2 separate regions of the Homo sapiens genome follow, and region 2 is linked to region 1. The links come from fine-mapping of genetic effects on gene expression. Tissue or cell type: whole blood. Region 1 holds a variant in brackets; the other region holds the start of a gene. All regions are shown on one strand. Distances are from middle to middle.

The links. PIP is the estimated chance that this variant, and not a neighbour inherited with it, causes the effect.
Region 2: it holds the start of NSG1, and the variant in region 1 is fine-mapped to the expression of NSG1 in whole blood (INTERVAL, PIP above 0.99).

What each region holds. Positions count from the first base shown.
Region 1 is chr4:4,344,876-4,353,049 of GRCh38, forward strand. No RefSeq gene overlaps it. Among named protein-coding and RNA genes, the nearest start is that of NSG1, 38 kb to the right of the region's middle. The variant T/G (reference allele first, on the strand shown) is at 4,922.
Region 2 is chr4:4,382,729-4,390,911 of GRCh38, forward strand. NSG1 (neuronal vesicle trafficking associated 1) reads left to right here and starts at 4,374. Exons shown (of 5, transcript NM_014392.5): 1 at 4,374-4,445; 2 at 4,876-5,030. The coding sequence starts at 4,902. LOC112268462 (a long non-coding RNA gene) reads left to right here. Exons shown (of 3, transcript XR_007058004.1): 3 at 1,794-1,881.

The DNA of each region.
Region 1 (8,174 bases):
CCTTTGTCGCCCAGGCTGGAGTGAAGTGGCACGATCTCAGCTCACTGCAACCTCAGCCTCCGGGGTTCAAGCAATTCTCCTGCCCCAGTCTCCTGAGCAGCTGGGGTTACAGGTGCGTGCCACCAAGCCCAGCTAATTTTAGTAGAGACGGGATTTCACCGTGTTGATCAGGCTGGTCTCTAACTCCTGATCTCGTGATCCGCCTGCCTTGGCCTCCCAAAGCAGGTGTGAGCCGCCGCGCCTGGCCGCTTGCTTAACCACTTTTAAATGAGATCCGGTGCGTTCAGTGTGGTATGGCCATAGACTGCTTAACCACTTTCAGATGAGATCTTCCTATGAGCTGGGGAACAGGTGAAGGACTTTGAATGCAATGTCTCATTTGATCTCTTAATAGCGCCCTTTTACAAATGAGGAAACTGAGGCTTTGAGAGGTTTGTGATTTGCTGAGTCATATAGCTGAGGTGGGCAGAGTTGGCCTTGAACCCAGGCTGTTATGAGGCTGGGGCCCAGGCAATGGAGAAGAAAAGGAATGACAATATCTGGGCATCTACTGTGTGTGAGGCCGGTGTTGCAGGCATTCATCATCTCCTCCCATTTTTTTTTCTTCTTCTTTTTTATTATACTTTTTTATTATACTGGGGTACATGTGCAGAACGTGCAGGTTTGTTACATAGGTATACATGTGCCATGGTGGTTTGCCGCACCCATCAACTCATCTTCTACATTAGGTATTTCTCCTAATGCTCTCCTTCCCCTAAACCCCCACCCCCAACAGGCCCCGGTGTGTGATGTTCCCCTCCCTGTGTCCACATGTTCTCGTTGTTCACCTCCCACTTATGAGTGAGAACATGCGGTGTTTGTTTTTCTGTTCCTGTGTTAGTTTGCTGCATCATCTCCTTCAACTCTTATAGCAGCCTCACGGGGCACTTATTAGTATCCTCAACTTACAGAAAGGGAAACTGAGGCACAGAGAGGCTACATAGCTGATCCAAAGCCAGTCAGCTCCGGGTGGCAGAGCTGGGGTTGAGTCCAGTCTCCCTGATGCCCACATGTACCCAGCTCTGCTGCATCTCAGCCACCTGGCCAACACCGTCCTGCCTGCCCTGACAGCCATAAGCCCTGTGTCAGTGTCCTGGGGCTTCCAGAACAAATGACCCCAAGCTGGGTGGCCTTCAGCAGCAGACATGTATTCTCTCCCAGTGCTGGAGGCCAGAAGTCCAAAGTCAAGGTGTTGGCAGGGCCGTCCTCTCTCTGATGACTTTAAGGCAGGACCCTTCCTCTTCTCTTCCCACTTCTGGTGGTCCTGGCCCACCTTGGCTTGTAGCTGCATCGCTCCAGTCTCTGCCTCCGTTGTCACATGGCCTTCCTTCCTCTGGGTCTGTCTCTGCATCTTTCTTTTTTTCTTTTGAAAAATTTAATCTATTTATTTATTTTGAGACCAGGTTATTAGACTGGCTAATTTTTGTATTTTGGTAGAGATGGGTTTTGCCATTTTGTCCAAACTGGTCTCGAACTCCTGGGCTCAAGCTATCTACCTGCCTCGGCCTCCGAAAGTGCTGCATTACAGGCATGAGCCGTCGCACCTGGCCTCTGCATCTCTGTTCTTTTCTTTGAGACAGAGATTCGCTCTGTTGCCCAGGCTGGAGTGCAGTGGCGCAATCTCGTCTCACTGCAACCTCTGCCTCCTGGGTTCAAGCAATTCTCGTGCCTCAGCCTCCCAAGCAGCTGGGATTACAGGCATGCACTACCATGCCCGGCTATTTTTGTATTTTTAGTAGAGATGGGGTTTCACCATGTTGGCCAGGTTGGTCTCGAACTCCCGACCTCAGGTGATCCGCCTGCCTCAGCCTCCCGAAGTGCTGGGATTACAGGCGTGAGTCATCACGCCAGGCCTTTTGTTGTACTTTTAAGAAGTCAAAAGCTGGGGCAGGGATCGGGGGAGGTTGGGAGGTGGATGAGGGATAAAAGACAACATATTGGGTACAGTGTACACTGCTGGGGTGATGGGTGCACTAAAATCTCAGAATTCGCCACTAAAGAACTCAGTGATGTAACCAAAATCCACCTGTACTCCCAAAAACTATTGAAATAATAAAATAAATAAAAGGTCAGAAGCAAAGAGAATTAACAGGCAACCCACAGAAGAAAATATTACTAGTTAACATGCCTGCAAATGTTTTCACCCCCTGGTGATCAAATAAATACTAACTGATGTAAGATGCCATTTCTTGGCCTTCATTAGTGAAAGTTTTTGTAAATGGTAATTGTGAATGCTGGAAACTGTTTCTTGAACAGTCACTTTCCTACATTGCTGTGGCCTCTTTTCGGGAAGCAATTGGACAGTGTTTCCCAGGGGCGGCCAAAAGATCCATTCCATTTGATTCCATGATTCCACTTCTAAAACTCTCTCCCAAGGAAATAATCAGAGATGTGGTCACAATTTCTATACAAAGATGCTGTTACAACATCTGAAAAAAAAAAAAAAAAACAGTGGCAGAAACAAATTAAAACTAGCTTAAATGTCTAACCATAGGCATTGATAAAATAAAAGGGTTTTTGCTAACTTAGAAGAATGCTTATGCTAAGTGAGAAGGGATGCAAAATTGTATATCCAGTGGGACCACAAATGTGTACAAAATTGTGCAGAATAAAAGGACTTGAGATACTCATGACAAGAGTCATAAAGAGAAAAATTTCCAAGTATGACAAGGGCCTCTCTCTGGGACAGATATGGGGCCATGTCATATACTATTGTTGGAGCACAGAAAACAATTCCCCACAATATGACACTTCCCATGCAGACCTGAAGAAGCAGCCTCAAGGTCTCTCTGATCCCTCTCCTCCTGCCTGTCAACCTTCTGTCTCTCTCAAAGCACTGGAGGAGGCTATTCTCTGACGCTCCCCTATCTACCTAGAAAACAGACCCCTAGTGAGGAACACAGCTGCCTCTGTTGACTTAAAAGGAAGAAGCTGAGGCAACATTCATTTAAGTACAAAGTTTATTTGGGCCAAGCTTGAGGATTGCATCCCAGGAGCATAGATTCAAATTGCTCTGAATATACACTCCAATTAGCAGCAGTTAAAAGTAAATTTTTAAAGGAAAAGAAGAGGCAGTTCCTGAGTTGTTTATCAAGAACGTGTAGTAAAATAACAAGTTTTGATTGGGTATAGGTTGTTCTTTTTATCACACATTTCAGGAACATGAAGATAATGAGTGAGGCAGCTAGGCAGGAACAAAATAACTTTTTTTTTCTTTTCTTTTTTTGTTTTTTGAGACAGAGTCTTGTTCTGTGGCCCAGGCTGGAGTGCAATGGTGTAATCTCAGCTCGCCACAACCTCCACCTCCTGAGTTCAAGCGATTCTCCTGCCTCAGCCTCCTAAGTAGCTGGGATTACAGGCATGCGCCACCACGCCCGGCTAATTTTTGTATTTTTAGTAGAGATGGGGTTTCACCATGTTGGTCAGGCTGGTTTTGAACTCCTGACCTTGTGATCTGCTGGTCTTGGCCTCCCAAAGTGCTGGTGTGTCTGGAATTGGTTACTTCTGGTGCGTTCTTCGTCTCGCTGACTTCAAGAATGAAGCCACGGACCCTCGCGGTGAGTGTTACAGTTCTTAAAGATGGTGTGTCCAGAGTTTGCTCCTTCAGATGTTCAGATGTGTCCCGAGTTTCTTCTTCCAGTGGGTTCGTGGTCTCGCTAACTTCAGGAGTGAAGCTGCAGACCTTAGCAGTGAGTGTTACAACTCTTAAAGGTGGCGCGTCCAGAGTTGTTTGTTCCTCCCGATGGGTTTGTGGTCTCGCTGACTTCAGGAGTGAAGCCACAGACCTTCACAGTGAGTGTTACAATAAAGCTAGTGGGGACCCAAAGAGTGAGCAGCAGCAAGATTTATTGTGAAGAGCCAAAGATCAAAGCTTCCACATCCTGCAAGGGGACCCCAACGGTTTGCAGCTGCTGGCTCAGGTGGCCAGCGTTTATTCCCTTATTTGGCCCTGACCACATCCTGCTGATTAGTCCATTTTACAGAGTGCTGATTGGTCGTTTTTACAGAGTGCTGATTGGTGCGTTTACAAACCTTTAGCTAGACACAGAGTGCTGATTGGTGCGTTTTTACAGAGTGCTGATTGGTGCGTTTTTACTGAGCGCTGATTGGTGCGTTTACAAACCTTTAGCTAGACACAGAGCGCTGATTGGTGTGTTTACAATCCTTTAGTTAGACAGAAAAGTTCTCCAAGTCCCCACCCAACCCAGAAGCCCAGCTGGCTTCACCTCTCACTGGGATTACAGGCGTGAGCCACCACGCCCAACCGGTAGGAACAAAATAACTTTAAACAATTGTCCCCAGGTGTAGGCACCGGCTACAGGGGGCCAGGGAATGACTGGAATTCCATACCCATGTCTCTGTGGGTCTGCAGATCTCTCAGTTCTCAGCCTGCTCTGAGCTATTTTTCTTTTCTCATATCCCCCCTGTTGATCAAAATTATTCCCATGGCAGCATTGATGATCAGTCTCTGTGCAGGTGGCAGTGATAGATGTCCTTCATCCCTCAGTGCTGGGAAGTCTCATTCCTGGGTAGTCCTCATTCAAGCCACTGATTTATATAAATGCTGTTGTTGCTTGTTGAATCATCTCCACTCTTCAGAATATCATTTTCTGGTTTTCTTGGAAGAAGCAAAACCCTGAGAGATACATAGTAACAAAGCCTATTCCATTGGGGATTCAGTTCAAATTGTAGGAAAATAATAAAAGAACTCAAAAACAATGGTCGGGGGCTGGAATCTAATAACAGGTGTTCTATAGCTTTCTTCAGGAGCCTAACTTTTTTCTCCAGTCCCTATTTTTACCAAAGTTTAGTATTATACTTGGCCTGATTATTTGCATAAAGTGCAGCAAGAATAGTGATTGGCCATATAGACCCTTTTAAG[T/G]TGACTTTGCTGGAACGTTCAGAAGGAATTTCAGATTAGACTTTTAAAAGTCTCAAGGCTAGGACATCAAACCAAGGATTCACCGCTAGACTGCACCTGTAATACTTGTACAAATTGGGTGAATTTCTCTCTTCCCAAGGTCCCCAAAATATCTTTTGGTTCCTGGGCATATCAGAAAGACACATTCTTTATTTACTGCAAGATTAGAAACCTTGAAAGGGAACTATGTAGACAAGATAGCAGGCCAGTTTTGCCAAGAGGCTTTTTATCAGCTCTATAAAGTCCATTTCAATTCCTCAAAGCAGTGTTATCATATCTGAAAATACGTCATTCCAGTCAGAATCTTGATTTGAAAAAAAAATTGTCTTAAATTGTATCCTGTGACAGAAAACAGATTCTTACTGAACTAATGCAAATAACTTGATTGCCATAAAATACGAATACTCATGAAGATTTTCCAAGTTTTGGGGAAATCAGGTAGAGATAAAGGCAAATGTTTCCATTTTGTTTACAAAGGTATATTTTATCCAGTTTCTATAAGCTACAAATAGTTCAAAAGAGAAAAGTTTTCTTGACTGTGGAAATCAAAATATAAAAAGAATCAGCAATGTTTTGGGCAAAAAATCATAAAAGTCATTTCAGTCCTCTATCAGTTCAGTCCCATGTAATTAATTCTTGTCTTGCTTGATGTTGGGTTAGCAATCTTCATGAATGCATTAGTTTATTAGAGTTCTGAATGTTTTTACTTGGTCCAATGATACGATCTTTGAAGTTATCAAAAACCTGTATTCAAGAGTACAGGGCCGGCCGGGCGCGGTGGCTCACACTTGTAATCCCAGCACTTTGGGAGGCCGAGGCGGGCGGATCACGAGGTCAGGAGATCGAGACCATCCTAGCTAACACGGTGAAACCCCGTCTCTACTAAAAATAGAAAAAATTAGCCGGGCGTGGTGGCGGGCGCCTGTAGTTCCAGCTACTCGGGAGGCTGTGGCAGGAGAATGGCGTGAACCCAGGAGGCGGAGCTTGCAGTGAGCTGAGATCAGGCCACTGCACTCCAGCCTGGGCGAAAGAGCAAGACTCCGTCTCAAAAAAAAAAAAGAGTACAGGGCCAGGGTCCTTTTCCATGAATCTCTTTGAAGAAAAAGCAAATTTGAACTGCAGCCAGTTGTAAATCACTTTTTGAGAAGAATCAAAATAGAGCAATAATTGTCTATGAATGGCAAAAGACTTCGGGTAGCTATAGTTAAAGATGTAATTAACAAGGAAATTTGATTATTTCTGTGGCATACAATAATTTAACATAATAACTATAATTATGTGTGACAACATAGACGTATCAGAATGTTAGGAATCTCATAACTTGAGAACACACATTCATAACGTATCTATACAAATATAACTCAAACAAATTTAAACACCATTTCTTATTTGACAAAGCTTCCTGTATGACTTTAACATACCACGGTGGCTTAATATGTTTCTCTTGGGCCACAGGAGTTCCTTCTTAAAAAGGAAGATTTAGCACACTTAATTAAAATAGGATCACAGGTCAGTGTAAAACAATAGTCATTTATTTTGCCAAAGTGATAATTTAAAGATTTCAAAAAGCACCCTCTTTACTCTTTGATAGAGAAGAGACCCGGTTTTCCAATCAAAAGGCCTAATAAAGACAGCATGAAGAATGAGATGAACGGAGTCTTTTTTTCTCTTTTTTTTTTTTGCAGTTTACTCAAAAGGTAAACATGAGTCTTTTATTATCTTATTAATATTATATGAAACTCATGTTCAAAAGATAAAACCAAATTCTACCTTTGTATCAGCATATTATTAATGCTAAAGGTAATTTAATAAAACCTAATTATCAACAAATCCATCCAATCTCAATCATCTTTGGCCACATAAGATTTCCATAAACCTTTTATAAACTCATATAATTTTATATTAAAGAATAGATGGATGCTTCAAGAAAACCCTGTCATTCCAACATTAAGGCCCATACTCTGACCCTGCATCAATGTGCTTTTCATATTAATGCACAGTTTCCTCAGTTTTTGGAAAAACTAAATAATTCCCTTCTAATTTTAGCCAACTTGATCACACACAAAATTCCTTTCATGAGATTAATCTTCCACAAATCTTTGTTTTTTTTTTTGAAACAGAGTCTTGCTTTGTCGCCTAGGCTGGAGTGCAGTGGCACGATCTCAGCTCACTGCAACCTCTGCCTCCCAGGTTCAAGGGATTCTCCTGCCTCAGCCTCCCCCAGTAGCTGGGATTACAGGTGCGCACCACCACACCCAGCTAATTTTTTGTATGTTTACTAGAGAGGGGGTTTCACCATACTGGTCAGGCTGGTCTCAAACTCCTGACCGCAAGTGATCCACCTGCCTTGGCCTCCCAAAGTGCTGGGATTACGAGCATAAGCCACCGCGCCCGGCCTCCTCATTTATTTCTACCTTTTTGTGCTTCTATCTTGGGTCACCATGCCCGGCCGTATCTCCCACAAACCTTCTACAGTTCATGTAACCTTCAATTTTGGCCTATACTTCCTTTTTCCTATTGGCATTCCACCTTAGGAAAAAAGTTTATTTTCTCCCTTATCATTTTGACCACACAAAATTCTTTCTCATGTAAAAGAAAACAAATTACTCTGTCTTTTCAATTTTCTTTTATTTTCTGTATATAAAATTGTTTATTTTGTAACTAGTAGTTTTAATTACATATATTAACTCCCATTTTAACTTTTCTTTTTTCTTTTTTTTTTTTTTTTGAGACAGAGTCTCCCACTGTCGCCCAGGCTGGAGTGCAGTGGCACGATCTTGGCTCACTGCAACCTCCACCTCCCAGGTTCAAGTGATTCTCCTGCCTCAGCCTCCCAAGTAGCTGGGATTACAGGTGCCCGCCACCACACCCAGCTAATTTTTGTATTTTTAGTAGACAGGGGGTTTCACTGTGTTGGCCAGGCTGGTCTTGAACTTCTGACCTTGTGATCTGCCCACTTTGGCCTCCCAAAGTTCTGGGATTGCAAGCGTGAGCCACCGGGCTCGGCCCATTTGTTAGTTTTAACACTGGTGCTGCCCCCAACCGAGAAATGAGACAACTCAATTTTGAGATAGTATAACACAAATTTGAGTTTGTTTTGTCTGGTGTACTCCCTCTTTTGGTCAGCTTAGCTTGCCCATTTATGTTGGGATCAAAAGAATCACACCAAAGATTCCTGCCCCAGTAGCACTAGAGATATGGGATGGATATCCAG
Region 2 (8,183 bases), 38 kb after region 1:
GTGCCGGCTGGTCCCGTGGATTGAGAAGTGGACCCAAGAAACTTAAAACCATCAGAGATGAGGATGTGTGCAGGGAGTGACTGTTGTGGGATGCAGGTTTCTTTACGGGGTGATGAAAATGTTCTGAAATTAGTGGTGATGATTGTACAACCTTGTAAATATACTAAAACCAGTTAAGCGTATACTTTAAACTGGTGATATCTGTGGCATGTGAATTACATCTCAATCTAAAAACAAGACATTTGGATGAAGCATCGCTGGATCGACGTGGCCAGGCTGCAGAAAAACAGAGCAGAACCTCTGCTGATCACCTGCCACTGAACCTCCATAGGCTGACAGCACTGGGTGGCCACCCTCCCAGCAGGACCTCATCCATCCTGGAGATCTGGCTGGCTGTGGGAGGCCTGACTAGATCCTGCAACCCATCCCAGCTCTGCAGGGAAGCCTGTGGCCGGGGACTCATCATTTGACTTCTGTGACCTGCAAAGAGGCTCATGAGGCCTCTAGGGGAAGAGTCACCTTAGTCACTCTGAACACTTGTCACATAACCAGGAAAAGTGTCTATCACCTCGCCCTGGCTCCAGCACCGGCTGCTAAGAATAGAGACCACAGGAGTACAGAATTAGAGGTCAAAGCAATAGTAATACCTAAAACAGGCACTTAAAAAAATAAGAATAGCTCATTTGATTCTCACAACACTGCTCTGATGGAGGTTTCATTATCTCCATTTATAGATGGGGAAACTGAAGCATAGAAAGGTTAAGCAGCTTGCCTGAAGTCACACTGCTAGGAAGAGAGGGACAGGATTCAAAATCGGGCCACGGCTTAGCCACTGTGTCACATTGTCTCTTGCTGTGACAGTCTGGACTTCAACCAGTGGGACAAGGGAAGTTGCTAAAACGCTTGGACCTGGAAGTACCAGGGTCATTAGAGAGCAGCGCCTGGCTGCCCTGAGGAGAGGGAGCAGGGTAGGAGTTACAATCGTACAGGCAGTGATGGGTCTGTGCCTGAGATCAGCAACCCTGGAAGTATTCCTAAAAGAGTCATTTAGGGCCAGGTGCAGTGGCTCACTCCTGTAATTCCAACACTTTGGGAGGCTGAAGCAGGTGGATCACGAGGTCAGGAGATCAGGACCATCCTTACCAATATGGTGAAACTCCGTCTCTACTAAAAATACAAAAATTAGCTGGGAGTGGTGGCACGTGCCTGTAATCCCAGCTACTCAGGAAGCTGAGGCAGGAGAATCACTTGCACCAGGGAGGCGGAGGTTGCAGTAAGCTGAGATCACGGCACTGCACTCCAGCCTGGCGACGGAGCAAGACTCCGTCCCAAAAAAAAAAAAAAAAAAAGAGTCATTTAGAAAAACTGAGTATGTGTCAACAATCTTCTGTGGCACTTGGATTTTAAATTGTTGGTGCTGGGATGAAACTGGTCCAGGGGGAGATCGCATCCCATTGATTTTCCCTTTTTGTATGTTGTGAAAATACCTGACATCTGTTTGACCTGCAACCACCATTGCAGCCTCAGCCATCCCCATTTTGGTGGCTGTGGCTTCTTCAACCTAATTTCTGCCACCCTCTGTGAATGACTTGGGTTCTCCAAATCACCACACCCTTGCAAGCTTAATGCCTGTAGTGAGCTGAATGGCGACCCTTAAAAGATATGTCCACATGCTAACCCCGGGAACCTGATTTACCTTACATAGTAAAAGAGTGAACATTATCTTATATGGCAAAGATAGGATTAAGTTAAGGATTTTGAGAGGGAGACCTTATCCTGGATTATCCCAGCAGGCCCTAAATCCTATGATGAGTGTCCTTATAAGAGACACAGAGAAGAGGAGGAGGCAATATGACTGGAGTGACATGAAGGCAGAGATTGGAGTGATGCAGCCACAGTCAAAGAATGTCTGGAGCCACTGGAAGCTGGAGGGGGAAAGAACAGGTTCTTCTCTGTGGCTTGTAGAGGGAGTGAGGCCCTGCTGGGACCTAGACTTTAGACTTCTGGCCTCCAAAGCCAGGAGAGAACATGTTTCTATTGTTTTAAGCCAAATTTGTTCCAACAGTGGCAGGAAGCTCATATACTGTCTTAACACATTCTGTTCTCCTACCTGGAATGCCTTCCCCTCTGCACGCACCTCTCTCAGGCCCACCTGTAGGAAGCTTTATCCACAGTCTTTACCCACAGTCTCTGGATGTCCTCCCTCCTGGCAAGAGGCAGAGGCCACTCTCCCACAGGGCCACTGCTCCCAGCAAAGACTTGCCCTTGTCCGTAGCTCCCTGCGGGTGGCGCTGTGTCTCATGCATTTTGCATTGTCCATGCCCTTCACAGGGCCCAGATACAATCAGCAGAGGAAGAAAACCACAGGATGAAACAGTCCCAATGACCAGCACCAGTGAAGACCCAAGACAGCACAAAAGGCCAGCTAGCAGAGAAACATGATTGTTCACCGTCCATCTCTGGGACAACCTAGGTCCTTCTTGCCTTTCTGTCCTCCTCAGTTGACAGAGTCTCTAAGGGAGGGGCAGGGCCTCCACTTTGTTCCTCCTGGTGTGGAATTCTGACCAAGTGTGTGTGTGTGTGTGTGTGTGTGTGTGTGTGTGTTTGCGCGCGCGCGTGTGTGTTGGGTTCTGTTAAATGCTTGAGCCTGAGACGGGGGGCGGGGCGGGGGGGGGTGCGGGAAAGCCATTTCCTTGCTTAAGCCCAAAGGGTTTCTCCTGACCAGTGGGTCACTCTCATGGCAGATGCCTGGGCAGATTTCTGAAGTGGAGCAAGAGAAATCTTCTCTTCTTCACCTGCTTCAGGGAGGCATCAAAGTGCCAAAAAGGTGGGTTCTGTGGGTCCCCGAGGCCCGTGGCAGGGGCCAGAGTCTGACACCCGCTTTCCCTGGGTTGGGGGCGGGGTGCCTCTGCCAGGAGCCTGGGTTCAGACCAGGCTGGCCTGTGGTCAAAGGCACACTTAGACCCTGGCTGGAGAGTTGGGGCGAGTTACGAGATACCCACTAGGTCACCTGTCAAAGACGGCTAGCCCTCCTGGGGATTTTGAAATCAGGGCACCCGCGGCAAGTTCCCAGGCTGTGCCTGGGGCTCAAGGCGGTGGCTGCTCCTGTGCTCTGGGCTTATTCCCAGGATTCTCAGACGGCTGATGGAAAACGCCCCGGACCCTCCGTAGTGCCGCGGGGAAGTCCCCGGAAAGGGTGTGAAAAAGTATCGAATTTGGGTGATGCCTCCTCCTCGTCCAGCGCCTGACAGGGCCCAGCTCCTGGCCCAGGTGCCCAGGAGGCACCGATCCCCGCAGCCGGCCTCCTCCCGCGCGGGCTCCACTCCCATTTCGGCCTCGCCCCCACACCCCATAGTCTTTCATCCGTGAGTCCTGCAGGCAGGACGGGTTGGAGGTCTGCAAACAGGACCCTCTCTGGGAAGCCGCGACAGCGGCTGAGCTCGGGGTTTGGGGGCGCAGGTCGGGCTAGAACCACCCCCCTTCTCTCCGCGTCCGGGCATCGTCCCAGCGGCCCCTCCTCTGTGCCCAGGATGCTCGGGCGGCGGCTGCAGTGGGACCTCCACCTTCTCTGCCAACCAGAGCGGAGGAACCTTTCCGCCTCCCTCCAAGCGGCGCACTGAGCGCTCTTTGCCTAGAACGACTTCCCTCCCGCTGCCTGGGGCAGCCTCACCCTGGGCGCCCACACCCCAGCCCTGGGAGAGCGCTACTCCGCCTCCCGCACCACCGAAAACCTCCTCCTCCTTTACGGGCCGCGCCTCCTTTACGGGCCGCGCCCCCTTTATACGCGGACGCGCCCTCTTTTGGTCGCCCCCTCCCCAACCCAGCACTAAGGAGCACCCTGCTCTGGTCTCCGCCACCACCCAGCGCCTCCTGGACCCATCCCCCCAAACCCTTGAACGTCCTCAGGACCCCCAGGTGAGCGCGGCGCGCTGCGGGCGGGGACCCTCTCTGCACCTCCCCGCACCCCTGGGGGTCGCTCTGTCCCTACGGTCCCCGCCTCCCCTTTCTCCTTTCTAAGCGCCTCGCGCCCAGGCCGCCGCCCGGGGTGGCGCAGCCCGCAGCCCTCCCGCTCCGGGCGCCCTCCGCCGCTCCGAGACCCCCTGGGGGCGCGTCCTCTCCCGCTCCCCTGTTCCCTCCCCCGGCTCAGGGCGGGCGCGTGGTCCCAGGGGAGGCTCCCGCCCAGCCCCGCACTCCTTTGTGCGGCCGGGCGGGCGCTGCGTCAAGGTGGAGGCGCGGCCACACGCGCGCACCCACCCGCGCGCACCCAGCCCCCGGGAGAGGCAGGAAGGGAGGCGGCGGCGCGAGGAGGAGGGAGCGGCCGTGGAGCCCAATCGTTCGCTCCCCTTCCCGGGTCCGCGCGCGGCGCCGCCTCCGCCATTGCTGCGAGCAGGAGCAGGAGACGCGGAGCTCGGAGCGCTCAGCTGACCTGCCGGAGCCGGGCGTGGGTGAGTGCGGCCGGCCGCGCCTGGGCTTGCCGAGGCCAGACCTTGCCCGCCCAGGAGCAGTGCCCGGGGGATGCCCATCTCCCGGAGTACGCGGGACGGGGCTGTGAACAGCGGGTCGCCCGGGTGCGGCGGCCCCAGGACCGGGGACCGGGTCTGGAGGTGCTGGGCAGGGGCGGCGCCCCCTTCCCTGGCCGCGGTGCGCCCTTGCGCCCGGCGCTTGGGTCCTGCGAGATGAGGGTCTAGAAATACACAGCACCACCCGACCCCCGCATCGGGCCGTGACCACCGCGTCCCCACGAGCCCTCCCCGAGACGAAGCGGGGCCGGGGAGCTCGCGGACGCCGGGACGCCGGTGGGTGTGGGTGCCCACTTCCCCCCCGCCCCGCCCCGGGTCTTGCTTGTGGTGACTCCCCCCGGCCCTCCCGCCGCAGGCTGCAGCCTCGGAGCTCCCGGAACGATGGTGAAGTTGGGGAACAATTTCGCAGAGAAGGGCACCAAGCAGCCGCTGCTGGAGGATGGCTTCGACACCATTCCCCTGATGACGCCCCTCGATGTCAATCAGCTGCAGTTCCCGCCCCCGGATAAGGTAAGCCCCCCCACGCCCCTCCACGTTGCCGGGTGTGCACCCCCAAATCTCGCACGGCGGGCGCAACAAAAGAAACGCGCCGCGTGCGCTGGGTACGCGAAGTGGGGGCGGGCTCGGGAGGCCGGAGGGAGCGCGGCGAGGACAGTGTACCCGCGCGGGATTCTGGATCGCGGGATGCTGGGCGGGGGAGGGGAGCCCTGCCTTAGATGATATTCTCGTCCTGACAGTGGAACGCGGTGGGGCAAGATTCCTTCGCGTTTTTCCTGGGAGCCTCATCCGAGAGGGCCCTGGCCCCGCAGCTGCCCTGCTCCTCCCTTGCCCCGTGGCCCCAGGGGCTCTGGATCGGGGGTGAGCCTAGGGGCGGGCGAGGCTGCCCCTGTACCTTCCCGGGTGTGGCAGTTCAGCCCGACTTGCCCCACCGAGGCGGGGGAGCGTTCTCCTTGGTCAGATGGCCCCTCCCCAGGGCTGAATTGTTCTCGCCCTTTCTGCCTGCCCCTGCCAGGCTGGCGCTAGGTGCAGGAGGGTGTGCGCGCTCACACAGGGTCTCCTTCCTCTTTGTTCCTTTTGTGAAATCTCCAAATAAGTGCCCGGGCTCGCTCAGTATTGGTGTCACTGGGAAAAACCATTCATCAACCTTTCCCCAAAGTGTTTTCTGCTGAATTTAAAGAATCTCCTCTTTTTGAATGTAGCATCCAATTAAGTAGTTTCTGTTTGCTAAGAATAATATTTCCAAGAGTTAACACTTAAAAATGTAAATAGATCTTTGCATGTCTAGGCAATTGTACTGTAAAATTCACATCTAAGACCATAGACACAGCATCTACTCTCAGCATCTTGCTGCCGCTTACGAACCACCACAGCCACGAATAATTCCCGGAAGTGCTTTTCTATTTATTTTCTCATTTAGTCCCTGGTGAAGGGGCTCTGAGCCAGGGCTCTGTCTTCGTTCCAGCAAGTTGGTGATTGCTGACGGGGTGGGTGTTGTGGGGTGGGGGTGTCCTGGTGGGGGCCCTGACCCCTGTGAAGGTGTCCTCCCAGCTTTATTGTGTGTGTCGTCTGGGGAGGGAGGCAGGAGCCGGGAAGAGGCTGGCAGCGGGGGTTTCAGTTCAAGAAAGGGGGATCAGCCGGCCACACCTGTGCCCCCCAGGCCACGGTGGTGCCACTCTGGGCCACTGATGGTCCAGGCTAGGCTTTGCAGGAGGGGCAGGGCTGCCTGAGGCCTCAGCTTCCACTCCACCCCTCCCTGTCTAGGCATCAGACTCGTCCAGTTAGCGGGGCCTGGCCCCGAGGCCCCCACACCCCCTCCTGCCTGGGCCCCCAGCTGCTCGGCTGAGGAGCAGTGGCGCCTGTGCCAGGAACTCCGTGTCCTGAGGCAGCACCTCTATCAGGTGATTCCCCTCACTTGGCCTGAGCCTCCTCTCTTGTCCTCAGTCTGTTCCATTCCAGAACCATTTGGCACAGTTGGTTTATACAGGGAGGAGGGTTTCAGGCAGGTATGAAATCCTCACCAACTAATTAGGTCGACCAGGAGTAGCCTAGGCAGCTCGGAAAGGTGATGAGTCTGCTCTCTCTGCAAGCGTCCGAAGCGGGGCAGCCAGCAGGGATGCTCTTCTCGGGTCCAGCCAGACCTTCCATCCCGGACTTCCCGCCGGGACTGAGTGTGGGTACAAGGGTTATGGCTCTTGGGATCATTTTCCAGAAGGCTTCTAAGGTCACAATGAGGGAACTGAGCCTCAGAGCATTTATGGGACATACCCAAGGTCACTGGGCTGAAGGTTACAGTCCTCCAGGATGCAGAAGTTTCTGGCAGTGCCTCTTACTCCACTGTGCTTGGAGCCAGATGTCTCTCACGTAAGACCTCTCTTAACCTGAACAACAGCAACGTGTTGCTAACGGTCAGAGTTCAGGGAGGCGATGTCACCTGTTTCAGGTGACATGGCTTCTGAGGGGTGGTGACACAGTTGGGTTATAAATGAGAATCTGTTCTGAGAACGTGTATGGAGTGCTGAGGTGCTGGGGTGCAGCGGTGACAGCAGTCACAGTGCTGGCAGCAGAGTCAGGGCTGGTCTCCCCTGACATTTGCCAGACACTTATTCTGCACCAGGAACTATTCTGCCAGTTTTACAGGTTTAAATTCTTTTAATGTGTTGATAATGCCATGAGGTCACTACCATGTTACCCCCATTTTGCAGATGTGGAAATGCAGGCACGGAGAGTTTGAGAATTGCCCAAGGTCACCTAGCCTGTTAGTGGCAGGTGGGGATAGAATCCAGGTCGACAGAATATTGATGGGGCCCCCACATACGGGAGAGGTTTCCATGGGTTTCCTCATCCTCAGCAGTAGCCTTATTTCCCATTCATTGGCCAGTCTAGGCCTGCGTGCTCAAGGTCACATGGCTAGTTGGGTCCAGTCGGGGTTTGAGGATGGCAGGGTGACACCCAACCACTGCCTCAAGCAATGAGTGCCTCACAGGGGTGGGTGCCCAGGCCAACCCATGCCAGGCACCCCTCCCTCTCCACCGCAGGAGCACTGGGTGGAAAAGGAGTTGGGGTCAGAGGCCAAGAGTGTGGTTACAAGGTTTATGGCTCTTGGGATCATTTTTCAGTGACCCTGGAATGGGCTCCGCTGTTCTTTCTCCCCAAGGCTGGCTTTGGGGGTCGTAGCACCGGATGAGAGGCCCTCTGGCTGCCCGCCTGGGGCTGACCATCCCCAGTTGCTGGGGTCTCTTTGTTCTGTCCTGGTCCCCACCATCGTGGAGAGCAGGTGACGGACTGCCCAATGAAGGGGCCTCGTCCCTCGGGGGAGAAAGAGCTTGGAGGTGGCTGGCTGTCTCTAGTGCAACAGCCTCTCCTGGAACCTGGCTTGGGGAGCGGGGTTTGGGGATTAGAGACCTATAACACCTTGACCCTGCTCTTGAACACCTCCCAGTCCAGTGGGACAGAGAAGTAAACAGTCCCTGGCAACGGGTGTGGTGAGTGATGAAGGCAGCGCCGCTGAGGCCAGGGCTGTGAGTGTCCAGGGCTGGGAGGCTTCTTGGGTCCATCTGAAGCTGCTGGGGTGTAGGGCAGATGCAAGGGCTGGTTTCCAGGTTGGACAAACATCGTTCTGCTTCACAGTAGGGGGTGGAGGGGAATGAGAGCAGGGAGACCCTT